7 linked regions of the Homo sapiens genome follow. The protein of the gene in region 6 purifies or fractionates together with the protein of the main gene of each other region. This does not show direct contact. Each region holds a gene or a part of one and is shown on either strand. Other genes may lie near its edges.

What was found.
Region 1: the proteins of WIF1 (region 6) and CSTF3 purify together in Homo sapiens (affinity purification with mass spectrometry; one large-scale study listed by BioGRID and IntAct). This does not show direct contact.
Region 2: the proteins of WIF1 (region 6) and MAP1S purify together in Homo sapiens (affinity purification with mass spectrometry; one large-scale study listed by BioGRID and IntAct). This does not show direct contact.
Region 3: the proteins of WIF1 (region 6) and NDUFB3 purify together in Homo sapiens (affinity purification with mass spectrometry; one large-scale study listed by BioGRID and IntAct). This does not show direct contact.
Region 4: the proteins of WIF1 (region 6) and DDX52 purify together in Homo sapiens (affinity purification with mass spectrometry; one large-scale study listed by BioGRID and IntAct). This does not show direct contact.
Region 5: the proteins of WIF1 (region 6) and CPSF7 purify together in Homo sapiens (affinity purification with mass spectrometry; one large-scale study listed by BioGRID and IntAct). This does not show direct contact.
Region 7: the proteins of WIF1 (region 6) and NAA15 purify together in Homo sapiens (affinity purification with mass spectrometry; one large-scale study listed by BioGRID and IntAct). This does not show direct contact.

The regions. Positions count from the first base shown.
Region 1 is NC_000011.10:33,158,681-33,162,745, reverse strand, and holds the start of CSTF3 (cleavage stimulation factor subunit 3), read left to right. Parts: upstream 1-1,265; 5' UTR 1,266-1,420; coding exon 1,421-1,447; intron 1,448-4,065. UniProt on the Homo sapiens protein: One of the multiple factors required for polyadenylation and 3'-end cleavage of mammalian pre-mRNAs.
Region 2 is NC_000019.10:17,722,480-17,725,979, reverse strand, and holds part of MAP1S (microtubule-associated protein 1S), read right to left. Parts: intron 1,855-3,500; coding exon 1,772-1,854; intron 932-1,771; coding exon 791-931; intron 152-790; coding exon 1-151. UniProt on the Homo sapiens protein: Microtubule-associated protein that mediates aggregation of mitochondria resulting in cell death and genomic destruction (MAGD). Plays a role in anchoring the microtubule organizing center to the centrosomes. Binds to DNA. Plays a role in apoptosis.
Region 3 is NC_000002.12:201,082,001-201,086,250, reverse strand, and holds the end of NDUFB3 (NADH dehydrogenase [ubiquinone] 1 beta subcomplex subunit 3), read right to left. Parts: intron 793-4,250; coding exon 636-792; 3' UTR 501-635; downstream 1-500. UniProt on the Homo sapiens protein: Accessory subunit of the mitochondrial membrane respiratory chain NADH dehydrogenase (Complex I), that is believed not to be involved in catalysis. Complex I functions in the transfer of electrons from NADH to the respiratory chain.
Region 4 is NC_000017.11:37,640,647-37,644,747, forward strand, and holds the start of DDX52 (probable ATP-dependent RNA helicase DDX52), read right to left. Parts: upstream 2,801-4,101; 5' UTR 2,775-2,800; coding exon 2,688-2,774; exon of another isoform or gene 2,292-2,687; intron 1,663-2,291; coding exon 1,464-1,662; intron 1-1,463.
Region 5 is NC_000011.10:61,412,976-61,416,475, forward strand, and holds part of CPSF7 (cleavage and polyadenylation specificity factor subunit 7), read right to left. Parts: coding exon 3,130-3,500; intron 2,810-3,129; coding exon 2,691-2,809; intron 1-2,690.
Region 6 is NC_000012.12:65,076,306-65,079,805, reverse strand, and holds part of WIF1 (wnt inhibitory factor 1 precursor), read left to right. Parts: intron 1-1,951; coding exon 1,952-2,060; intron 2,061-3,500. UniProt on the Homo sapiens protein: Binds to WNT proteins and inhibits their activities. May be involved in mesoderm segmentation.
Region 7 is NC_000004.12:139,339,505-139,343,004, reverse strand, and holds part of NAA15 (N-alpha-acetyltransferase 15, NatA auxiliary subunit), read right to left. Parts: intron 2,094-3,500; coding exon 1,936-2,093; intron 180-1,935; coding exon 45-179; intron 1-44. UniProt on the Homo sapiens protein: Auxillary subunit of N-terminal acetyltransferase complexes which display alpha (N-terminal) acetyltransferase (NAT) activity. The NAT activity may be important for vascular, hematopoietic and neuronal growth and development.

The sequences.
Region 1 (4,065 bases), on a different chromosome or scaffold from region 6:
GCTCACTGCAACCTCCGCCTCGCGGGTTCAAGCGATTCTCCTGCTTAAGCTTCCCGAGTAACTGGGACTACAGGCGCAAACCACCACGCCCGGCTACTTTTTTTGTATTTTTGGTAGAGACGAGATTTCACCAAGTTGGCCAGGTTGGTCCTGAATTCCTGACTTTATTTATTTATTTTCTGAGACGGAGTCTCGCTCTGCCGCCCAGGCTGGAGTGCAGTGGCGCGATCTCGGCTCACTGCAAGCTCCGCCTCCCAGGTTCACGCCAGTCTCCTGCCTCAGCATCCGGAGTAGCTGGGACTACAGGCGCCCGCCACCACGCCCGGCTAATTTTTTTTTGTGTGTGTGTGTATTTTTAGTAGAGACGGGGTTTTACCGTATTAGCCAGGATGGTCTCATCTCCTGACCTTGTGATCCGCCCGCCTCAGCCTCCCAAAGTGCTGCGATTACAGGCGTGAGCCACCGCACCTGGCCTAGAACTCCTGACTTTAAATGATCCATCCGTTTTGGCCTCCCAAACTGCTGGGATTACAGGCGTGGGCCACCGCGCCCAGTCAATCTCATTTAATCTTAATGCCAGGTACTGTTCTAACACTTTTCTATGTATAATTTATTTCACTTGCAGGTACTATTATTATTCCCATCTATAGGCCAGAAAGCTGAGGTACGAAGTTTAATTACCAGAGTTACTTATCTTCGTTAAAATCCAAGCAGTCTGGGCTACAAACAATTATACCTACTTTGCAGTCAAGGAACCAAGCTGAGATGTTGAGCTGAAAACCCAGGTCTCAGACTTCAAAGCTTTCTACACAAGAGTCGACGGTGGCAGTAAAAATTAATGGGGGCTTGATCTATCCCTCCCACCCCCAAGAAAAGTAAAAAGCAGGAGCTGGGACCAGAGAAAACCTCCACGGAGTCCTTATCCCCTAAATATAAGAGGCATTTAACGTTTAGCATTGCTGACCTGCAATCAGGCTTCAACTGTGAGTAGCCAGGCTCTAAAGCTTGATAACTGAATTCCAAAAAGCGCGCGAGCCTCCAGGCGAAACAGCTTCCCGCCTTCCAGCCGGTTGGAGCCGGCTCAGCAACAGCCTCTCCAAGCCAGGGTAGTGACGTCAGCCCAGGAATTGGGCCCGCCCCGGGATCTCGCTGCTTTCTGCACGCTCGGAATAACCAGAGTCGCGAAATTAGCCCCGCCCACTGCCCCGGAAGTTAATGCGGAAGCCACACACCTCCTCCTCGGCCGGCAGGGGCGCAGCCATTTTAATTCATATTTGAGTGGGCGGTGGCGATTGGTGTTGGCGGTCTGGCTCAGCTGGGCAGGGGGTAACTTTACTGATTTGGGGGTGGTTTTTAGTTTAATTTTTCTTTTCTAGCTTCCCATCGACGGTCAGTGCGCACGTTGTAATCAGCTGAGGCCATGTCAGGAGACGGAGCCACGGAGCAGGTGAGGAAGGAGAGTGGTGGGGCCTCGTGGCGACCTCTTCTCCACGTCTGTTCCTCCGACTGCTCCAGACATGTTCGGCTGAGGAAGGAATTGGGTCTAGTGAACCCGGGGGACAGGGTATATAGAAGAGTGGTGGGAATGGGGAGCAAGATCTAAGATTTAATTTTTTTTTTTTTACTTCTCTCTCTTAGGCATGAATACGAGTAAATACTTGATTTAGACAATAGCGGTAGGCTGCTTCGTCCTATTTAGATTCATGGGACTACTCCAGATGGGATGCTTTCCTTTGATATCGTTTTGGTATTAGAGTGGATAGGAATTATTTTAACGTGCACCCGACGTTTTAGAAAAACTTGACAGTGTTTCTTTTACCCCGCCAAATATACTGTACCCAGAAATAGGTTACTAGTTTGAGAAATATTTGAGACAAAGCTAATCTGGAGAATTAAGACTTAATGAGAGCGAGTGAAGAAAGAAGCAAGTTATGCTGAGGTTTTGGGAATTTTGTGGCTTTCTTTCGTTTTCTTTTCTTTTAGCCACATTTCGTTTTCATTTTTCCAGCTACATAAACATTGCAGGTATAAGTTGAAAATGAGAAGTCTGTTTTGGCCACTGTAAATAAAAGCATCTGTTTTAATAGTAAATATGAGTGACAACTAAATATTTTAAAATTCACACTTTTAGGTTAGATCAGTGTGATTTGTTTCTTTTGCTCTTTGTATTCAGAATTTTGTAGGATAGTATTTACCTTTTAGTGTGAAAGAGGAAGCTAAATAGTTATGAAAAATGCCATTAAATGTGTTTTTCGATCTAAGTCCTGGTGTGTTTAGATAAATACAGTTTCTAAAATGGAGGCTAGGTAGCCTGCAGTCTCAATTTCCTGAAATTTCCCATTGCCATAGCAACGACATGCACTTAGGTTTTCGTTTTTCAGGTTCCCTAGCTTATAACGTGGAAGATGTTATTGGAGGTTGGCAGAGATGAGGCAAAATAGGAGCGTTCTATTGCATAGTCTGTAAGACTGTAGATTTCATTATGTCGGCAGTTTGATTAAATTGTTTTGTGTTTGCCCGAGGACTGGTTTCAGTCCAGAAATCTTCGCACTATTTACATTTTACATAGTGTTAGCATGCCCAAGCATGCAAAGTCTTAAAATTACTGTATCAAAACTGTTTACCCCTTTTCTGATCTAGTATTTGTTATCTGAAAGTGAAGGACTAATGAACTGAGGTTTCATTGAAAGTTTTCGAAATTCATTGTTAATTCTTAGAATTTATCTAAAATTACAAAGACACGGAAATGTTACCATGACCTCTTGAATGTTTTAGAACTGTGGTGTTTCAGTGGGACAGATGGTGGTGAAAATTTATAGAAAAATAATTTCTCCCAAAGGTTTTATTGTGCAAAGTTTAGAACATAGAGAAAAGTTGAAAGAAAAGTGCAGTGAACACCTGTAGGACAACTCTTCGCCTGGAATCAACAGCTGAAAGCCTTGCCATATTTGCTTTATCTCCCCATGCTGATAGATTGAGAACAGAGTCTTTGTCACTCACACTAGAGTGCTGTGACGCCATCACAGCTCACCATAGCTTCGACCTCCCTGCGCTCTGTGATCCTGCCACCTCAGCCTCCTCCGTAGCTGGGAGTACAGGCGCGCGCCACCATGCCCAGCTAATTTTTTTTTTTTTTTTTTTTTTTTTTTTGAGATGGAGCCTTGCTCTGTCGCCCAGACTGGAGTGCAGTGGCGCGATTTCGCCTTACTGCAGCCTCCGCCTCCCGGTTCAAGCGATTCTCCTGCCTCAGCCACCCCAGTAGCTGGGATTACAGGCGCCCACCACCATGCCCCGCTAATTTTTGTATTTTAAGTAGAGACGGGGATTTTGCCACGTTGCCCAGGCTGGTCTCGAACTCCTGACCTCAAGTGATCCGCCTACCTCTGCCTTCCAAAGTGCTGGATTTACAGGCGTGAGCCACCGTACCTGGCCTAATTTTTGTATTTTTTTTGTAGAGACAGGAATTCACCATGTTGCCCAGCCTGGTCTGGAACTCCTGGGCTCAAGCGATTCACCCACCTCAGTGTCCCCAAGTGTTGGGATTACAGACAGGCACGAGCCACCACGCCTGGTCCACGCATGTTTATTTGAAAGTATTTTGACACATTGCAGCCCCAAGTATTTCAGCATTCTCTTATAAATAAGAGCAAAATGTTGTTACATAACCACCATACCATTTCCCCACCCAAGAAAATAGTATTTCTAAAATCTAGTTCTTTAAATTTCCCCATTTGTCCCAAGAATGTGATTTTTTTTTTAACCAGAATCAATCTAGATTTACATATTGAATCATTTACTTCTGTCTCTTAAGTAGTCTCACCATTCTTCTCCCCTGGGGCTGTTGTCTATTCGAAGTGTCAAGGACACTTAACACTGCTTTTCTGGGTGTATTTGTTTTTTGTTGTTTGTTTGCTTGCTTGCTTTTGGTTTGGGGGTTGATGATGTCATTTAACTTGTCCCTTCATCTGTATTTCCTGAAAACTTTACAGTTAGGTCTATACTCAGCCTTGATATTTGGGTTAAGTATTTTTGGATAGAATACTTAACATTATATCATTACATTAG
Region 2 (3,500 bases), on a different chromosome or scaffold from region 6:
CCGGGGGGTTCAGCCGCAGCTGGAGCCGGAGCGCCCCCTGAAGGCCAGGCACAGCGGGTGCCAGCTGAGCCCAGTCACCGAAGGTGGGGCAGGTGATGGTGAGTATGGGCGGCTGCACAGGTGGGGGCGTGGTGGCCAGGATGTCCCGGATCTGTATGGAGGAGGAGTGGTAAGGGACCACCTAGAGCCAGGCAACACCTAGCCCGGTGGGAAAACTGGGCGAGGACACCCTCATCCTTTCCCCCAGGGCCTGCTCCTCAGGGCCCTCCCGCCAAAACCCAACCCTCTCCAGCGCCACAAGGCTCTTTGATCTGGCCTCACCTCCTGTCTCTCCCTCCCCTTCAAATGCCTCCCTGCCCCAGGGCCTTTACACTCACCATTCTCTCCTCCCAGGGCACAGCTCCCTCCAAGGAGACTCTCCACGCCCCACCTGTCTACTGAACCTTTTCTCACCATTTTTAAGTGCCCCACTACAATGTGAAAGTGAGGTTTGCCATTTTGCCCATGTGTCCTACCCAGACTGCGGGCACCAGGAAGGACCCATTTGGCTCCATCCCTCATCAGGACTTTGGGACATCTGCTGACCTACAAACTCAGCTCACACCACACCCTTTCGCGGGCAATGGGACTGACCCCAGACAGCCAGGAGGCATGTGTCACCACTGCCATCCTACAGAGGATGGGGAGACCAGGCCATGGAAAACAGCAGGTCGCTGGTGCCACACAGCCTGATACACCCCAGTCAGGATTCAGAGCTGGGGAAGCAGGGGATGGCAAAGGGGTGGCTTACCTCTCTGTCCTTCAGGACCTGGAGGAAGTGGTGAGGCGAGAAGCCCCCTGTCTGTAGCAGCAGCTCCCCCGTCTCCTCCAGGCAGGGCCCAGCCAACACCAGTAGCTTGTGAGAGGCAGGGTCCAACAGAAGGTTCCGGAGCTGAGGGAGGGGGTGAACACTAAAGGACCCGTTCTGTGCAGTGACGTATCCAGCAGTCCTCTTTGGGGTAGCCTCGAGTCGATACATAACCACCCCTCTCCTGTCCTCACCCCACGACCAGCCCAGTGCTCAACTAGCTACGAAGGCAGTCTCCAGGTCTCCTGCTGGGCCCTGGAGCAACCCTAGCAAACTCCTATTCATCCTACAAAGCCCAGCTCTGATGTCCCTTCCTCCTGAAGGCACTACTTGCCCTTTCTGGGCTCTCTCTAGTCCACCTCTCCCTCCAGCCCAGCCCTGATGCCACAGGGCTGGGGGTGTCTGTGTCTCACTCTGTCTCTTAAAGACTGAGAGCCCCTCAAGGGAACAAAAGGGAAAAGTTGATCCAAGGAATCAACCTGTAAGAAGGTCTGTAGTGGGATGCCCCAGGGCTCTGTCTGGTTCATCTTCCGGATGTATAATTGGTAGAGTACAGATGGCCACAAGCTGGTTAATGTTAGTGAGTCGATTCAGACAACTCCTGGGGCCTAGCCGGAGGGAACCCACAGGAGGAAAACCTGTCTGCTCTGGCCTTCCCACCTCCAGACCCACGCTGTCCTGGGCCCTGAGCTGGGAGTGCTTACCCTCCCCTCCCTCCCAAAGTCCAGGCTTTTCTGCTCCCACCCCAGAGGAGGGAAGAAGCGGAGGCTGAAGCCACAGGGAAGGCTTCGTGGGCGAAGAAGTGTGGTGCCGGGTGTCTTGAGAGGATCTGGGGCAGCATGAAGACAAGGACACGAGACAGGAAGACAGAGAAGGCACGGGTCCCAGCAGCCCGCCCCCTCCAGGACGTCAGCCATTCCCTACCTCATCATACAGGGACTTGTCTGATGGGTTCAGGAGGACCAGGGTCTCCAGGTTGTCTCCACGGTGGTGCAGGCTCCGCTGGCCTGTGGGGGAATCAGGCCGTCCCGGAGTCAAATCCTGCCTCCCCGTGTGACCCTCAGGGAACATGAACCCCTCTGGGAACCCACCCAGGGATCATATGGAGATTAACAGGCGCACGGCAGAGCTGCAGGTCAGGACCAGGCAAGAAAGAGAAACTCAAACCACCCCAGCTGGCCTAAGAGAGGCAGTAACCAGAGGGCCCCATCGTGCGCAGGGCCTGGTTTGCAGCTGTCACCCCTGGGAGTGATGCCACCATTTTCTTCTTTTTTTTGTGAGACGGAGTCTCGCTCTGTCGCCCAGGCTGGAGGGCAGTGGTGCAATCTCTGCTCACTGCAAGCTCCGCTCCTCCTCCCGGGTTCACGCCATTCTCCTGCCTCAGCCTCCCGAGTAGCCAGGACTACAGGTGCCCGCCACCACACCCGGCTAAGTTTTTGTATTTTTAGTAGAGACAGGGTTTCACCGTGTAAGCCAGGATAGTCTCCATATCCTGACCTCGTGATCCGCCTGCCTCGGCCTCCCAAAGTGCTGGGATTACAGGCGTGAGCCACCGCGCCCGGCCTTTTTCTTTTCTTTTTTTTTGAGACGGAGTTTTGCTCTTGTTGCCCAGGCTGGCGTGCAACAGTGCAACCTGGGCTCACTGCAACCTCCGCCTCCTGGGTTCAAGCAATTCTCCTGCCTCAGCCTCCCGAGTAGCTGGGATTACAGGCACACGCCACCACGCCCCATTAATTTTTTCAATTTTTAGTAGAGACGGGGTTTTAACATGTGGGTCAGGCTGGTCTCAAACTCCTGACCTCAGGTGATCCGCCTGCCTCGGCCTCCCAAAGTGCTGGGATTACAGACTTGACCCACTGCACCCATCCGGCCACATTTATTTTTCAGACAGAGAGCCAGAGCTCGAGGAGGGCCAATGAGGGCGAACGTGGACGAGGGTACATCCGGAGCAAAGGTCCTGAGGCAGGACTCAGCTAGGGGTGGGGCAGCATAAGGGCCGGGGCTGAAGTAGGGCTGTTTCTGGGATCCTGACCCTGCTCTGTCCCCCAGGGCCCGTATGTGTTTTAAACATCAGTACTGTGAGAGGGGGGTGGCAAGGAGCCAGAGCCGGGGTGGGGGCCGGTGAGGGCCAACCCGGACCAGGGTACAGCACCAGCCAAGGCCCCTGAGGCAGGACTGAACTGTGAACAAGGCTGAGTCTTGAGAGGCAGAGACCCTCCAGTGTTGCCAGCCCTTATCACATTTAACTTTCTTTCCTTTCTTTCCTTCTTTTCCCTTTCTCTCTCTCTCGCCCTTATCACATTTAGCTTTCTCTTTCCTTTCTCTCTCTCTCTCCCTCCCTCTCCCCCTCCCTCCCTCCCTCCCTCTCTCTCTCTCTCTTTTTTGAGATGGAATCTCCCTCTATTGCCCAGGCTGAAGTGTAGTGGCACGATCTCAGCTCACTGCAACCTCTGCCTCCTGAGTTCAAGCAATTCTCCAACCTCAGTCTCCCAAGTAGCTGGGGTTATAGGCGCTTGCCACCACAACCAGCTAATTTTTGTATTTTTAGTAGAGATGGGGTGTCACCATACTGGTCAGGCTGGTCTCGAACTCCTGACCTCAGGTGATCCACCCACCTCAGCCTTCCAAAGTGCTGGGATTATAGGTGTGAGCC
Region 3 (4,250 bases), on a different chromosome or scaffold from region 6:
TGGGAGGCTGAGGCGGGTGGATCACAAGGTCAGGAGATCGAGACCATCCTGACTAACACGGTGAAACCCTGTCTCTACTGAAAATACAAAAACAAAATTAGCTGGGCATGGTGGCGGGCGCCTGTAGTCCCAGCTACTTGAGAGGCTGAGGCAGAAGAATGGTGTGAACCCGGGAGGCAGAGCTTGCAGTGAGCCGAGATCACGCCACTGTACTCCAGCCTGGGTGACAGAGCGAGACTCCATCTCAAAAAAAAAACAGCAAGGCCAACTCCCATTTAAATACTTGTTAGTGCCAGCTAGGTCAGGACTAGTTAAAAAAAAAAAAAGAAAAAGATTAAAAAAAAACTTCTTAGAACATGCCCATTTGCTCAGCCAAATATATGATGCCTGCCTGCTATATGCAGAACGCACTACTGCTGTTCTCCAACCCCCTATGTATTCTAAACCAAATCTGATATGGCTTGAGACACTTTTTTTTTTTTAAGAATGACAAAAGCAGATTGGCATATATATATATTTTAATTGATTAAATCTTACTAATATTCTGTAAGGGATAAACCAGACAAGTAGGCTACAGAGAAGAAATCTTATTTTGGAGAGTTAAGAAACCACTATGATGCTTCCAGGTATTATCTTCAGTGATGCTTCTTATCTTTATTCAGGGACTCCAGGTAATATTCAGCTCCTACAGCTACCACAAATGCAGCAAATCCCCATTTGAATCCTTTAAAGAATACATCAGAAAAGGAAACACTCTTTGCAAAGCCACCCATGTATCTCCAAGCTTCATTGCTAGAAAAAAAAAAAGAAAAAATTATAATCATACACAACGTGTGTGTATATACGTTGAAGACATTTAATTTTCATCTTTCTAATTGACTTAAATGCTACCCTACAGAAGATCATTTAAGTGAATCGCAATAGGAATCTTTCTGTGGCATAGGATAATTAAGTATATGCCCAAGTTTCACATATAAAATAGAAGAATAAACACTTGATGGTTTCACATTTAATAGTCATATGCCTCAGGATTTTACAGAACCCTCAAATGCAAGACTCACGTCAGCTTATCTGTCACAGGTCAGATGGGCTCTGCCCACACTAGTCATTACAACATCACGGAAAGATGAAGTTAGAGACTTGGTATTAATCTTTGGTATGCCACTTATATTAGATTCACAATCTTGTAGGCTGGGCAAGATGCTTAGCCTGTCATGGTCTGCTTCCTGTTCTATTCAATGATGATTATTATCTACTTTATAATATCATAAAGACTAAACAGGCTCATGCATGATATATTTTGGCAGAGGAGTATGGAGTATGTAACACTTGACATTACTGTTACTATTCAAAAGGATCTCTGCTTCTCCCTACCATAGCAGCCTGAATTTTGGAAGATTGATACCCTGCTCTGGTCTGATAAGGACAAGCCAATGAAAAAATCATGTTATGAAAAACAAAAACTATTTAACTCTAGAAATATGACTTAGGAAATACGAGAGCTAATTAAATCTAATTGGGATACCAAAACCAGACAAAGATGTTAGAAGAAAAGCAGCTACAGAATACTATCCCTCATGAACATAGATGCAAATATTCTTTTTTTGGCGGGGGCGGATGGAGTCTTGCTCTGTCACTGAGGCTAGAGAGCAGTGGCACAATCTCAGCTCACTGCAACCTCCACCTTCTGGATTCAAGTGATTCTTCCACCTCAGCCTCCCAAGTAGCTGGGATTACAGGCACACACCACCATGCCCGCTAATTTTTGTTTGTTTGTTTGTTTATTTATTTATGACAGAGTCTCAATCTGTTGCCCAGGCTGGAGTGCAGTGGTGTGATCTCAGCTTACTGCAACCTCTGCCTCCCAGGTTCAAGCAATTCTCTGCCTCAGCCTCCTGAGTAGCTGGGATTATAGGTGCCCGCCACCATGTCTGACTAATTTTTGTATTTTTTTTTTTTTTGAGATGGAGTCTCGCACTGTCGCCTGGGCTGGAGTGCGATGGTACGATCTTGGCTAACTGAAACCTTCACTTCCTGGGTTCACGGGATTCTCCTGCCTCAGCCTCCCCAGTAGCTGGGATTATAGGCGCACACCACCACATCCAGCTAATTTTTTGTATTTTTAGTAGAGACGGGGTTTCACTATGTTGGCCACACTGGTCTCGAACTTCTGACCTTGTGATTCACCCACCTCGGCCTCCCAAAGTGCTGGGATTACAGGCATGAGCCACCGCGCCCGGCCAATTTTTGTAATTTTAGTAGAGACAGGGTTTTGCCATGTTGGCCAGGCTGGTCTCAAACTTCCAGCCTTAAGTGATCCGCCTGCCTTGGCTTCCCAAAGTGCTGGGATTACAGGCATTAGCCACCACACCTGGTGCAAATATTCTTAACAAAATTTTAGAAAACTGAATCCGACAGCATATAAAAATGGTAATACATCATAATGAAGTAGGGTTCACTCCAGGAATGCAAGATTTGTTTATATTTGAAAATTAATAGAAGTAACTCGCCATATTAACAGAATAAAAAGGAAAAACTATGAACATCTCAATAGATGCAGAAAAAGCATTTAACAAAATCCAATATCCATTAATGGTAATAACAGGATGGGCACGGTGGCTCAGGCCTGTAATCCCAGCACTTTGGGAGGTCGAGGCGTGTGGATCACCTGAGGTCGGGAGCTTGAGACCAGCCTGGCCAACGTTTTAGTCTCTACTAAAAAAACAAAATTAGCCGGGTGTGGTGGCACATGCCTGTAATCCCAGCTATTCGGGAGGCAGAGGCAGGAGAATCGCTTGAACCTGGTAGGCAGAGGTTGCGGTGAGCCAAGATCTCGCCATTGCACTCCAGCCTGGGCAACAAGAGCAAAACTCTGTCTCAAAAAAAAAAAAAAAAAAAAGAAATAATAAACAATGAAACACTTAGTAATCTAGAAATAGAGAGAAATTCCTCATCTTGATAAAAGGCACCTAGGAGATCACTGTAAGAAACATCATACTAAGTGGTGACCCACCAAATGTTTTCTCCCAGTTGGGAATAAGGCAAGGACGTCCACCACTTTCATTCAACATTATAGTAGTGGTGTTAGCCAGTACAAAAATGCAAGAAAAAGAAATAAAAAGTTTACAGATTGAAAAGGAAGAAGTAACAATGTATTTGTAGACAGAATGATTGTTTATGAAGAACATTCTAAGAAATCTGTAAAAAAAATCTACTTGAACTAAAAAGTGAATTTAGCGGCCGGGCGCGGTGGCTCACGCCTGTAATCCCAGCACTTTGGGAGGCCGAGGCGGGTGGATCATGAGGTCAGGAGATCGAGACCATCCTGGCTAACAAGGTGAAACCCCGTCTCTACTAAAAATACAAAAAATTAGCCGGGCGCGGTGGCGGGCGCCTGTAGTCCCAGCTACTCGGGAGGCTGAGGCAGGAGAATGGCGTGAACCCGGGAAGCGGAGCTTGCAGTGAGCCGAGATTGCGCCACTGCAGTCCGCAGTCCGGCCTGGGCGACAGAGTGAGACTCCGTCTCAAAAAAAAAAAAAAAAAAAAAAAAAGTGAATTTAGCAAGGTAACAAGATATAAACTCAACATATAAAAGTCAACTGTGTTTACAAGTATTAGCAATGAACAACTGGAAGTTGAGATTTTAAAATACTATTTACAATAGCATCAAAAATTAAAATAATTCAAGCTGGGTGCTGTAGCTCAGATCTGTAATTCCAGCACTCTGAGAGGCTGAGGTGGTCAAATCACATGAGCTCAGGATTTTGAGACCAGCCTGGGCAACACAGGAAAACCTCGTCTCAACAAAAAATACAAAAATTAGCTGGGCATGGCGGCATGCACCTGTAGTCCCAGCTACTCGGGAGGCTGAGGTGGGAGGATGATTTCAGCCCACGAGGTAGAGGCTGCAATGAGCCAAAACGGCATCATTGCACTCCATCCTGGGCGACGGAGACTCCATCTCCCAAAACAAACAAACAAACAAACAAACAAACAACGCCAGGCCTGATGGCTCAAACCTGTAATCCTAGCACTTTGGGGGGCTGAGGCGAGCGGATCACTTGAGGTCATGAGTTCAAGACCAGCCTGGCCAACATGGTGAAACCCCATCTCTACCAAAAAAATACAAAAATTAGGCCTGGCGCGGTGGCTCATGCCTGTAATCCCAGCGCTTTGGGAAGCTGAGGTGGGTGGATCATGAGGTCAGGATATCGAGACCATTCTGGCTAACACAGTGAAACCCCATCTCT
Region 4 (4,101 bases), on a different chromosome or scaffold from region 6:
TAGATTAAAAAAATATAAACAGCCCTAGAGTACAGTACAAGAAAAAAAAAAAAAAAAAAGGCCAGGCGCGGTGGCTCACACCTTTAATCCCAGCACTTTGGGAGGTCGAGGCGGGCAGATCACGAGGTCAGGAGTTCAAGACCAGCATGACCAACATGGAGAAACCCCGTCTCTACTAAAAAATACAAAAATTAGCCAGGCGTGGTGGGGCACACCTGTCCCAGCTACTCAGGAGCCTGAGGCAGAAGAATCACTTGAACCTGGGAGGCAGAGGTTGCAGTGAGCGGAAAACATGCCATTGCACTCCAGCCTGGGCAACAGAGCGAGACTCTGTCTCAAAAGCAAACAAACAAACAACAAAAAAACAAAAACCTCTGTCAAAATGGGCAAAGAGTAAGAAGAAACAATTCACAAAAGGTGAAATATTAATGTCCAGTAAAGCATACAAAAATATGCTTGACCAGCCAGGTGTGGTGGCTCACGCCTGTAATCCCAGCACTTTAGGAGGCGGAGGCGGAGGCGGAGGAGGGTGGATCACAAGGTCAGGAGATCGAGACCATCCTGGCTAACACGATGAAACCTGGTCTCTACTAAAAATACAAAAAATTAGCCAGGTGTGGTGGCAGGCACCTGTAGTCCCAGGTACTTGGGAGGCTGAGGCAGGAGAATGACGTGAACCCAGGAGGCGGAGCTTGCAGTGAGCCGAGATTGCACCACTGCACCACAGACTGGGCAACAAAGCGAGACTCATCTCAAAAAAAAAAAAATGCTCGACCTCACCAGTTATCAGTAAAATATAAAATTGTTTCAGGCAGGGCGCGGTGGTTCAGGCCTGTAATCCCGGCACTTTGGGGGGCCAAAGCGGGCGGATCACGAGGTCAAGTGATCCAGGCCATCGTGGCCAACATGGTGAAACCCCATCTCTACTAAAAATACAAAAATTAGCTAGGCGTGGTGACACGCACCTGTAGTCCCAGCTACTCAGGAGGCTGAGGCAGGAGAATTGCTTGAACCCAGGAGGCAGAGGTTGCAGTGAGCCGAGATCGCGCCACTGCACTCCAGCCTGGAGACAGAGTGAGACTCTGTCTCAAAAAAAAAAAGTTTCATTCATTAGCTTGGCAAAAAAATTAACACCAATAATATTCAGCACTGACAAGGACTTGGGAAGTCACTTTGTAGTATTTTTCAGAGAAAGGGTACATACCCTTTCACCATATGATGCTACTTTTCGGATGGTATTCTGCAGAAATAACAGTACCTGTACAAAAGGATTTATGTATAAATATCTTTACTTAAAATTACCTTTGCTGTAACAATATTTCTAATGACAAATACCTGGAAACAACCTGAGTGCCATCAGCTGACAAATGACCTTATTGTCTGACTTGTAGCCATAAGCCTGTATTATTTTTATAACTGAAAAAAATTAAAGAGAAAAAACATGACAGAAATCAAACACTAACCTGAAGTCATCGTCTTCCTTTTTTTCTTGCTCTGCTCCCTCTTCCTTTCAGTTAGGCTCTCTTCTTTTTTCTCTCCATTTTGGGGCTTCTGATGTGTTTGTGATGCTCCACACACACCTGGGACAGACTTCTTGTTTCCAAAAAAGTCCAGTCCCTGAAGCACCTCCGAAGAATCAAAGTCATATTTCCTTTTTCCTATCTAAAACCCAAAAAATGTAAAATGAAACCTACTGACAGAATACCATTGCTTTCATTCAAGCAAGACTGTTCAATGACTCCTCATCTTTTCTACCCTTTCACCAAGTATCTGTCGAGCTAACAGGTGTCTGGACAAATGGAATCTGAAGAGACCTTCTCTGACCTCATAATAGTAACAAATTAATATTAGCAATGAACACATATATGCTTACTAAATGTCAAGCAGATTTCTAAGCATGTTTATACATATTAAATTGCTTCACATTTACAACTCTATAAGGTAAATAGCAGTATTACGAATGAGAAAACCAAGGCATTCGGAAATTAAGTAACTTGAGGTAGGTCTAAAAATGAGTAACTGGCAGACTTAGCATTTAGACCCAGATAATCTGGCTCCAGAGTTCATACTCACCAGTTAGAGAAAGAAGAAACACATGTCACACGCATATACACATCCAAACAACAAAGTAGACATTCAAGATTTTCCAGAATTGGGCCCCAATTGACCTCCCCCGATGTATCACTCACTACTTCTCTAGGTAAGAGCCCCCATTTCTTAATCGCTCTTCTCATTGGTTACTTAAGCCATGGGGTTGAAGCAATAAAAAGAATCACGCCCAGTACAACTATACGCATGCCAAGCCAAACTTGGGGAGACTATAGTAAGAGAATCTGTTTTCTCCATCTTTGGTTGTTTCTGTTTTCGAAATTCCTTTCCTCTAGGTTCGGAGAAAAAGTTCCTTTTGAAAGGAGGATTCCAACTTTGCTTTGAATAAGAGGGAGGAAAGAGGGTTTCCGTGCCAGGCCCAACTAGGTCTACAACAGGATAGTTAAAGAGCTTATTCAAAAGGCTTGAACCGAGCAGCCGTGCAGGCAAGCCGAACACAAAAGGAAGCAAAATACCCCAAGGGTGGCGAGAGCCAGGCCACGGGTGTCCAAGTGCGCCGGCCTCCCCCAGCAGCGGGTTCATTCCCGGGCTCCTGCTCCTTCTCAGTTACTCGGCCCTCGGTCCCTTGGGCACAGTACCTGGAATCGAGCTGCGTCTGCCGAGAAGCGTCTCGTGTCGAATTTGGCCCCCGCGCCGAGCCGGCGAAAGAGATCGTGGACGTCCATCTTTACCCAGAAAGCGCCACAGTTCTACGGCGCCTGCGCAGACTACTTCCCAGGCCCCGGGCAGCGTCGGAAGAGGGCGTGAGCATAATTGGCTCCTGTAGGCGGAGCCTGGCTGGGTGAGAAACGAGGCTATTTTATTATCGTGTACTCCGTCATTATTTATCTTTTTTTTTTTTTTTTGAAACAAGGTCTCTCTCTGTCGCCCAGGCTGGAGCGCAGTGGCGCAATCGCAGCCTCGAACTCCTGGGCTCAAGTGATCCTCCCATCTCGGTCTCCCAAACTGCTGGGACTACAGGCGTGTGTAAATTCTTTTAAAAAATATTTATCAGTATCCTCTTATGTTGGGCACTGTTCTAGACTTTGAGGGATACTATAGTAAACAACATCTTAAGATTCCTCTTCTTACGAAGCTTACATTTTAGTAGGGACAACAGATATTGTTAACAAATAAATAAGCAAAATCTCTGTAAAGTAATAAGTGCTATAAAACAAAAAGGTGTAATTGATAGAGAAAATGATGAGGGAGCTGACTTAGTGAAATTCACTCTGTTGAAGTGAAAACTTGAGCTAAGAGGAAGCAACCTGTCCAAGATCTGGGAACAGCATTCCAGATAGGGGAAACACGTGGCTGAAGGGAAAAAAATTGGAACCTTGAGGGAATAGAAAGAATGCCGGTGCGACTAGAGCCAAGTTGCAGTCTGATAGAGTAGTACAGATAAGGTTGGAGGGACAAACAGAAGCCAGATCTCACAGAATCTTGTAACAAGGTCATAGTAAGGAATTTGGACTTCCACCTTGGGAAACTATTTGAAAATTTTTATGGAGAGAAGAACATGATTTAGTTTATCACATTTAATTTTTTATATTTATTACATCTGTACGAAATTATTTACTGCTTATTGCCTCTCCCTCTTCTGGAATGTAAGTCCCTGAGCACAGGGATATACTTTGCTTCGTTATGTATCCCCAGTTTCTGTGCACTTTGGTGAATGAATGCGTGGATGTTTCATAAAGGATTACACTGGCTATTTGGAGAATGGACCATAGAAAAGCTAAGAGTGGAAACAGGTTAGTCAAAGTAGAATGATGATCATGGCTTGTCTAGGTTGGTATCTGTGCTGAGAGAGATAAATGGATTAGATCTGGCATGTATTTTGGAGGTAGAGCTAAACGTACCTGACGGATTTTATGCAGAGGTGAGAGAAAGGGAGGAATCAAAGATCACTCCTAGTTTTTTGGCTGAGTAGATGGCATGCCATTTACTGAGCTAAGAAAGCCTGAGAGAAGAAGGGCTTTCTGGTACAAGTGAGATACGGAGGATGGAATC
Region 5 (3,500 bases), on a different chromosome or scaffold from region 6:
GATGGGTCTTGTTTTATCATCCAGGCTGAAGAGCAGTGGTATGATCATAGCTCACTGCATCCTTGAACTCCTGGGCTCAAGCCATCCTCCTGCATGCCACTTCACCTGGCTTATTTTTCAAAAATTTTTTGTAGAGATGGGGTCTCACTATGTTGACCAGGCTGGTCTTGAATTCCTGGCCTCAAGTGATCCTCCTGCCTGGGCCTCCTAAAGTGCTGGGATTATAGGTATGAGCCACTGTACCTCATGAGACTTTCTAAATAATGTGTATTTCTACAAGTTATTTTTAACCTACCATCAGATGTATGTGTGTATATATATGATATTTACATAAAACATGTATGCGTAGTATATGTATACATTAAAAAAATTATGGCTGGATGCAGTGGCTCACACTTGTAATCCCAGCACTTTGGGAGGCCGAGGTGGGCGGATCACTTGAAGCCAGAGTTCGAGACCAGCCTGGCCAAAATGGTGAAACCCGGTCTCTACTAAAAATACAAAAACTAGCTAGGCAGTGTGGCATGCACCTGTAATGCCAGTTATTTGGGGGGCTGAGGCAGGAGAATTGCTTAAATCTGGGAGGGAGAGGTTGCAGTGAGTCGGGATCAGACCACTGCACTACTCCAGCTTGGGCAATAGAGCCAGACTTCGTCTCAAAAAAAAAAAAAAAAAATTTATGCTGTCATAAAAAACTAGGCCTTTCATTTCCCAACTCTGAGTAATGCCTGGCTCAGGGATAGTGGTCATGGGGCGGGTACCTACACTTTGCTTTTCCAAGCTAAGTCAAGAGCATTAAGGACAAAAGTTAATACAAAGAAAATATGAATTCAGGCAGGGGTCCAGTGAAAATGAAGCCTGGCAGCTTCCTCTGTGCAAGGCAACAAGAACAGAAACTATGGAGAAACTGTCCAGTGGAGGCACAAGAATATGAAGACATCAGCTCCATCCTGGCAGGGAATTTTTGCCTGTTTTTGTAGTATCTTCAATAAGTATTTGTGGTTTGAATGACTGGAATGAGAACAACAGGAGATCAAGATTCAGTTATTGATCATCTTAGTGTGAAAGGGTTGATGAGGAAGAAGGAACAATGAGTACTTTCTTTATACTGTTCTGTGTATTTAACCCATATAACCCATGGGTATATATTACTTTTTAATTTAAAAAGACTAATTTTTTTTTTTTTTTTTTTGAGACACAGTTTCACTCTGTTACCCAGGCTGGAGTGCAGTGGCACAATCTCGGCTCACCACAACCTCCACGCCCTGGGTTCAAGCAATTCTCAATTCTCGTGCCTCAGCCTCCCAAGTAGCTGGGTCTATAGGCATGTGCCACCATGCCTGGCTTATTTTTGTATTATTAGTAGAGATGGGGTTTTGCCATGCTGGTCTCAAACTCCTGACCTCAAGTGATTTACCGGCCTTGGCCTCCCAAAGTGCTGGGACTACAGGCATGAGCCACTGCACCTGGCCTAAAAAAGACTAATTTAGATGTCAATGTAGATTTTTCTGGTGGGAAAAAAATGAAGGGAACATATGTACTTTCTGTCTTTAACCTTCTCTGTGGATTCAAGTTTGGCAAGATGATGCAAAGATGAAAACTGATGGAAAGCAGATGATAATATTTAGGGCTAACTTATTTCTTAGGAGATCTGATAATCTACAGACATTTACATTCATGTAGGAAACTCACAGGAAGGAAGTGAATATGGCTAATGTCACGATGTGAAAACCGGACCAGAACTCTGAAACTTCCTGTAGCCTCTTCTTTTAGAAACTAAAGATCTTATGCTCAGGGCTTTCAGAATCATGGCTGCTGGTTCTACCCACTTAATAATGAGAGCAGGGCAAAAGTTAGCTGTAAGGGCATAACATGCCTTAAGATGACATCTACAGACTTGCCTCTTTTTAGGATAGGCTACCTACCAGCTCTGCTTAGACTCCTAAATGTAATCAGATTTCATAGCAAACCATTATCTAGGCTGGACGTGGTGGCTCACACCTGTAATCCTAGCACTTTGGGAGGCCGAGACAGGCGGATCACTTGTGGTCAGGAGTTCAAGACCATCCTGGCCAATATGATGAAACCCTGTCTCTACAAAAAAATACAAAAATTAGCCGGGCGTGGTGGCAAGTGCCTGTAATCCCAGCTACTTGGGAGGCTGAGGCAGGAGAATCGCTTGAAACCAGGAGGTGGAGGCTGTAGTGAGCCAAGATTGCACCACTGCACTCCAGCCTGGGCGACAGGGCAAGACTCCCTCTCAAAACAAACAAACAAAAAAACACATTATCCAGTCAAAACATCATTCCTAAAGAAGACCCAGGGTCTATATCTGGTATTGGGTCTACTACACAGACACTAGATCTAAAGATCAACCACTGAGATGGAGATTTCCACAAGGCAGGAATTTCACTCTACAGCAAACACCACATCGAGATGGTATTAATTATTTATATTCTAGGCATTAAGTTGGTTTTCATGAGGGCAGGCCTAGATACAGACTAAGTAATACTGCCGGAGCTTCCCCAAGGCCAAGAAATCAGGTTACATATTGCTCTTCAAAGTATGCCGCTCTTGATATCTACAGTACTCCAACTTTATCTTGTTGAACTTTTGCCAGTAGAAATGACAAAATCAGGAAAAAAAAGTAAAGGTTAAGGAGAAGGCAGCAAAGGTAAGCACTGAGTTACCTGCACTGGCTCCAGATACTGCTTTGGAAATGGCACTGCTGGAAATTGCTCTGTTTCGCTTCATGATATCTTCAAATTCGGCTTCACTCACTGTAGAGGGTGGAGGGCCCGAATCTCGGCTGTACAGAGAAAATACCATCCTTGATTGCTCACATCCCTTATTATTTTTACTGTACTCTACAACACTTTGGTAATTTTGGCATAACACAGAACAATGCTAGACATCTGTAGCATTCATAACACCTGCTCCCGCATTTAATTAAGCACCTTAAAAAGGGGTATAAAGGACATGGTACTACTTCCCAGGAGTCAATGCTATGATAACAGAATGTCTATAAGGGAAAGAACAAGGATTCAGTGCTCACTTTCTCAGGGAGAATAAAATGCTTAATACACTTATTTACCCTGGCTCAAATCTGAAAGGAACAATAGTCCTTACCTGCCATGGTGGTTATAGGGGGCAGAGGCCTTCATGTAAGTATCTGGTGGAGGCCCCACTGTAGCGTTTGGTGGGGGGAAGAAGGCTGGATTGAGGTGAAGGGCAGGTGGGATGGCCCCAGGGGGAGGTACAGCAAGATGAGGAGGTAATCGAGGAGGTGGGGGCATGAGATGCTGGTAGTGGATACCAGGAGGAGGAGGAGGGACCCCAAAGCTTGAGGAGAGAGGTGGTGGGGGTGGAATTGGTGGTGGGGGCAGACCCATCAGGGGAAGGGCCGAAGGAGGACGATTGAAGTAGGGCAGCACACTGGGGGGCTTATCCACACGAGCAGATGAGGGTACAAGGTTCTCAGAGGGTGTGGCCCGTCCATC
Region 6 (3,500 bases):
AATTTAATTCATTACATTAAATTAATGTAATTCTGGATGTCTCTACAGGTAACTGCAGAACCACTCAACTTGCCTAACTCTCATGTTAGCATTGGTGCTATTTATTGATTGTTCTTTATTTCTAAGCAAGAACATATTGTTACCATCACAACTCTCCTTCCGCTTTTTTTTTTTTTTTTTGAGACAGAGTCTCACTCTGTCACCCAGTCTGGAGTGCAGTGGCATGTTCTCAGCTCATGACAACCTCTGCCTCCCAGGTTCAAGCTGGAAGCTGATAACTGAGGGAGGAGACTTATGAAAACAATATTGATGATAATAATAACAATCTCCAATGCTTATAAATTTCTGTAATGTTGGCATTATTTCTTCCTTAATGTTTGTGAGAATTCACCAGGGAAGCCATTTGACCCTGGAATTTTTTTTGTGGGAGGGTTTTACAATTTTGAATATAATTTCCTTAACAGACATAAGGCTATTCAAACTTTCTATTTCTTGTCAGATTTGTTCATTTGTGTTTCTCAAGGAGTTCATTTTATCAAAGTCATTGAATTTATTGGTGTAACATTGATCCCTTTTCTTGCTTAAATGTCTATAGCATCTCTAGTAATGCCTCTCTTTCACTTTTTTTTTTTTTTTTTTTTGAGATGGAGTCTTGCTCTGTTGCCCAGGCTGGAGTGCAATGGTGCTATCTTGGCTCACTGCAGCCTCCACCTCCTGGGTTCAAGCAATTCTCCTGCCTCAGCCTCCCAAGTAGCTGGGACTACAAGCACCCACGACCATGCCCAGCTAAGTTTTGTATTTTTAGTAGAGACGGGGTTTCGCCATGTTGGCCAGACTGGTCTCGAACTCCTAACCTCAAGTGATCCGCCCACCTCAGCCTCCCAAAGTGCTGGGATTACAGGTGTGAGCCACCGTGCCTGGCCTTCACAAACCCTTTTAATAATCCAGTGGGAATCCATTAAGCATTAAAGCTCTATAGTGAGATTATGCATCATTACTTTCAGTATTCATGGCCATTTGAGTAGCAGGAATCATTTTCTCAACTAGACTTAGTGGGTAAATGAAAGTGTTCACAATGTAAAGGTTTATGGCTTGTTGTCTTATTGTGATGGTGGTTTTTGCATCTTTTGGCTTTTCTCTCCACAATTAAATCGAGACATTAAATATAAACCTTTCAAAGGGAATGAGAGTAAAAAATAAATGTTAACAGCAAGATCATGGAATTTGGGACTTCATTACAACTCTCCAAATTCTGATCAAAAGACTCACTTCAGAATTTAGAATTAGGAGTATTAAAGAATGATTAAAATAGCTGAGATGGATTCTAGTCAATGACTGGTTTGACATCACCTATTTCCCTAAGAGAATTTTTTTTCTCAATCTTTTAAAAAGACAGCAATTAATATCATTTAAGTTAAAAAATTACTGGGCAGGCATAGTAGCTAAAGCCTGTAATCCCAGCACTTTGGGAGGCCAAGGCAGGCAGATGACTTGAGGTCAGAAGTTCGAGACAGACCCCGGCAACATGGTGAAACCCTGTCTCTACTAAAAATACAAAAATTAGCAGGGCGTGGTGGTACATGCCTGTAATCCCAGCTACTCAGGAGGCTGAGGCAGGAGAATTGCTTGAACCTGGGAGGCAGAGGTTGCAGTGAGCTGAGATTGCGCCACTGCACTCCAGCCTGGGCAACAGAGCAAGACTCTGTCTCAAAAAACAAACAAACAAAAACAGATTAACTATTGTGGCTGTTTTTAATGTTTTTAGGGATCACTTCTCTCCAGAGTCTAACACAGAAGGGTGAGTTGTGCCTACCCAGTATCTTGGATGCTGTGTGCTCCAGAGTTCCTGTAATGAAAATTATCTCTGCCCCATCAGATGGACGATGAATTCTGTGGTGCCTTCTCCCTCTCTGGTTTCCATGTTACTAACTGTCAGTGCCTTTGGTTGTAGGCAGAATACTTCTATGAATTCCTGTCCTTGCGCTCCCTGGATAAAGGCATCATGGCAGATCCAACCGTCAATGTCCCTCTGCTGGGAACAGTGCCTCACAAGGCATCAGGTGGGTGGTCTTTGCCTGAAGAAAGGTTTACACTTAAAATGTAATGATGATAAGAATATTTAAGATGCAAATGTCCTACATCAGAGAGGTTATGAAATGTTTTCCTGAAGACATCTGTTGATTTTAGGACAGTTTGACTGTTATTCTTTGGGCAAAGGATTAAGATGGGAGTGAAGAAATGATGGTTATATAATTTTCTAAAGATTCAGAATAGCCCCAGCCCAGCCCACACTAAGTTCATAAATGATTCCAGACTTTTTTAAAGAAAAAAAAGGAGAAAGAAACACATCTGGTGAGATATATTTGGCCAATGTATGGATTAATGAGATACACAAAAATGTGGCAAAGATACAAAGTAAGTGATTGGGGGCAAATGGGATAAGTCAAGAAAATTCCCCAAAAGTTAGCATTGTATTAAATTAGAATTTGAAGGAGAGAAGAGACATGGAAAAGTGGGAGAAAGGGGTTCAACGTTTCTAGTCTAATCATCCTTCTTTGCTAAGAAAATAATAGTATGTGATATTTGTTTAAAGCTTTTCAGCTTACAACAGACTCACTCTTGCGTTATCTAATTTGAATACTAGTAGCGAGTCAAATCCAGAATTGCAGCTCATTTTCTAAATTAAAAAATTAAGACTTAGGAGATTTGACTGACTTGCCCAAAGTCAAATATTAGGATAGTAATAAGCAGTAGAGTTGAGACTAGAGCCCGGGATTTCTGACTTTTAGAAATATACAGAGATCACTTGTGTTATCATCCTAATGTATTTCCTTCTCATCTTTTTTCTCTGAATTTTTACATATTTGTGATAATATATATTTGGTTTTGCGTCATGATTTTTTTTTTTTGCTTTTAACCTTTTAACATAACCATTTCCTATGTCATTATGGATTTTTTCAAAAGTTGTTTTTAATGCTCTTACAATATTCTATTTTATGGATATACCATAATTTGTATACACATTCCCTTATTTGTTAATTATGTTGTTTTTAGAGTTTGACTATAGCAATATCACAATATTTTTTTAAACTAATGGATGGTAACTTCCATGCACATAGGAGCCCTATTTTTTTGTTCACTGTGGCTCCACCCCAGGGCCCAGCACAGAACAGGTATTCAGAAAGTAATTGTTGGATTAATGTGCGTACCAAAATCTTGGTGCTTATCTCATTATTTTGTTAAAATCGATTCCTAAAAGTTGAATTATTGTGTCAAATGATAGGAACTATGAGCTTCTTAAAGACTCTTAAAACAAATTGCCAAAATGCCAAATTACTTTCTGTAAAGGTTATCATACCCATTTTTACCCTGGTTAAGCAATAGGGAGAATGCTTGGCTTACTGTAATCCCATCAACATAGGTTATTAATCACATTAACTACTTTAGTGGCTTAAATAGTGAAAAGTCAGGCCAGGTGTGGTGACTCATACCTATAATCT
Region 7 (3,500 bases), on a different chromosome or scaffold from region 6:
TTATACTTAGGATCAGACTTAGTAAAATGGCTTCTAGTTATTACCTGTTGTGTTTTCCTAAATTCTTCTAAAATCTTTGCTGCCATTTCATAATCTTCTAATAAATGGTAAGCAATAGCATAACCAATCCATGATGCTCTCTGCGCAGGTCGAAGCTGAAGTAACTGATACCTCGTTTCCTTTAAAAGGAAAAAAATAAACACTTTTTCTTAGGCTTTTAGTAACAGCAAGTGCTCCTTTAAAAGATCTCCATATTAGGCCAGGCGCAGTGGCTCACGCCTGTAATCCCAGCACTTTGGGAGGCTAAGGCGGGTGGATCACGAGGTCAAGAGATCGAGACCATCCTGGCCAACATGGTGAAACCCCGTCTCTATCAAAAATACAAAAATTAACTGGGCATGGTGGTGCACGCCTGTGGTCCCAGCTACTCAGGAGGCTGAGGCGGGAGAATCACTTGAACCCGGGAGGCAGAGGTTGCAGCCTGGCAACAGAGCAAGACGCCGTCTCAAAAAAAAAAAAAAAAAACACACATTAATTTATCCCACAACCCCAAGCATTTTACAACACAATGATGGGAACAATAATAGAAAATACTTCAAACATCCATATTGTGTAGCTTTATGGAGGCAAAGAAATATTTGTTAAGAACATAATGAAGCCTCCAAGCTAATCTTAGAATTTTTTTAAAACTTAAGACCAGATTTAAGTTTTTAAAACTTAAGACCAAACTTAAGACCCTTCTTTATTTCTTGATCTGCTCAGTCCCAGAAAAGAGGCAGGATGGAAAGAACAGCACAAAGGAAAAATATTCAAAAATGTTTTTAAAAATTAAGTGTCCAACTACAGAGTTAACATACATAAAGAGGAAAGAATATGAAAGAGGAACTAAATAGATCTAACACTAATTTAAGGGTTAAAATCGAAGCTACAAAAATATATTAGAGTCAGTGGAGGTAGAAAGAAGAAACAAAACATTTGTTTTTGCCAGGTGCAGCAGCTCATGCCCGTAATCCTAGCACTTTGGGAGAATAAGGTGGGGTGGACTGCCTGAGCTCAGGAGTTCAAGACCAGCCTGAGCAACATGGTGAAACCTCATCTCTATTAGAATATAAAAAATGAGCTGGGCATGGTGGCACATGTCTGTAGCCCCAGCTACTCAGGAGGCTGAGGCATGAGAACTGCTTGAACCCAGGAGGTGGAAGCTGCAGTGAGCCAAGATCATGCCACTGCACTCCAGCCTGGGCAACAGAGTGAGACTCTAATGTCTCCAAGAAAAAAAAAATTTTTTTTTTGTTTTGCTTTCCAGAAAAATGTGGGAAGTAAATGTTAGAGTTACATGTCAATACTAGACAAAGGCATTGTTTATTTGAGGAGTACTGATTTTCTTTTTTTTTTTTTTTTTTTTTTTTTTGAGACAGAGTTTCGCTCTGTTACCCAGGCCGGAGTGCAGTGGCGTGATCTTGGCTCACTGCAAGCTCCACCTCCCGGGTTCAGGCCATTCTCCTGCCTCAGCCTCCTGAGTAGCTAGACTACAGGCACCTGCCACCACGCCTAGCTAATTTTTTGTATTTTTAGTAGAGATGGGGTTTCACTGTGTTAGGCAGGATGGTCTCGATCTCCTGACCTCATGATTCACCCACCTGGGCCTCCCAAAGTGCTGGGACTACAGGCGTGAGCCACCGCACCTGGCCTGATGTTAATTTTTATCAAATTAAGTCAACCCTACACAGTAGGCCAAATCTGCCTCACCATAAAATAATTTATTTTTAAAGATCTGATTATTCCAATCATAAACATAACCACTGTGGTAGGAGGAAAAAAAAATTCAATTAAATTATTTTCAAAATGAAATAAAAAATTTATGTATCTGAAAGTACTCAAAGTTGTACATATTTTCCCCTTAGAATTAAAAAAAAAAGTCTCTATTTTACTTACCCTGTAACCCTCAAGATCTCGCATTTGAATCTGTAGTAAGGAAAGGTCCCTTAAGATTTGAAGATTGTCTTTATCCCATTTTAGTGCATTTCTGTAACACTTAATGGCTTCATCATACTTCTTGTCTGACCTCTGAAGAAGGCCATAAACGTGCCAACCTAAAGAATTTAGTTAAGGGTACAACCTACAAGTCAAAAATTACTATTCCAAACGACCTCCCAAAAAACTTGGAGAACCACAGCCATTTATAAAACTACAAGCTTAAAAAGAAGGGGAAGGGGAGGGGGAGATTGATTTCAAAGATATAAAGCAGTTTAATACAGTGGAAAAGAGCACAGCTTTTGCAGCCAGAGAAAATTAGGTCTTGCCTACCTTATCAGCTCTGTAACCTTGGACAAATCAGTCTCATTAAGTTTCCTCATTACTAAAATGTAAACAAATAGTCTATGCAGCAAATCATACTACTGACAACTAAATGGGATAACATATATAAAGTGCTCACTGGCTGGCACAAAGTCAATATATATATATGTAAACAGTTACTATATTATTAATAGTAAAAGGAAAAAGAAGGAATGGGTCTTCATGGAATCCAGTTATGTAAAGTCATGAAGATTTTATTTTCTTGAACTAACAAGATTCTTAGGACAACCCTTAGTGTAATACAAAGTTTCTAAAACTCAGCCACATATAAAATAAAAACATTCATTCATTTAACCGTAATTATTAAAACTTCTTTCCCTTTTTTTGAGACAGGTATTGCTCTGTCACCCAGTCTGGAGTGTCGTGGTGTGGTCTTTGCTCACTGCAACCTCCACTCCCTGCACTCAAGTGATACTCCCACCTCAGCCTCCTGAGTAGCTGCGACTACAGGCACACACCAGCATGCCAGCTATTTTTTTCTATTTTTGGTAGAGATGGGATCTCGCCATGTTGCCCAAGATGGTCTCAAACTCCTGAGCCCAAGCAATACACCTGCCTTGGCCTCCCAAAGTGCGGGGATTACAGGCATAAGCTCCCAAACCCAGCCTAAAACTTCTTAATAACTAAGACGTAGGTCATCAAAATAGCCTCCTATATTAAAAGATCTTAAAGTCTAGTAAAGGACAGATAAATAAGCAAAATTAAAGTAGGTTGTAAAAACTGCTATCAAGGAGGAGAATATTCCACTTCCCAAATACAGCCCTTTTTCACTTTAGATCTTGATTACTGTACCAGCTACCCAACCCACCTATCTTCAGTCTGTCTTCTTTTATTCTCCTACCAAAGTAATTGGGTTTTGTTGTTTTTTGTTGTTGTTGTTGTTGTTTGTTTGTTTTTGAGATGGAGTCTCGCTCTGTCACCAGGCTAGAGTGCAGTGGCATGATCTCAGCTCACTGCAACCTCTGCCTCCCAGGTTCAAGCAACTCTCCTGCCTCAGCCTCCCAAGTAGCTGGGATTACAAGCGTCTGCCACCACGCCCAGCTATAATTTTTGTATTTTTAGTAGAGACAGGGTTTCACCATGTTGGCCAGGATGGTCTTGATCTCCTGATCTCGTGATCCGCCCGCCTCCTAATTATTGCG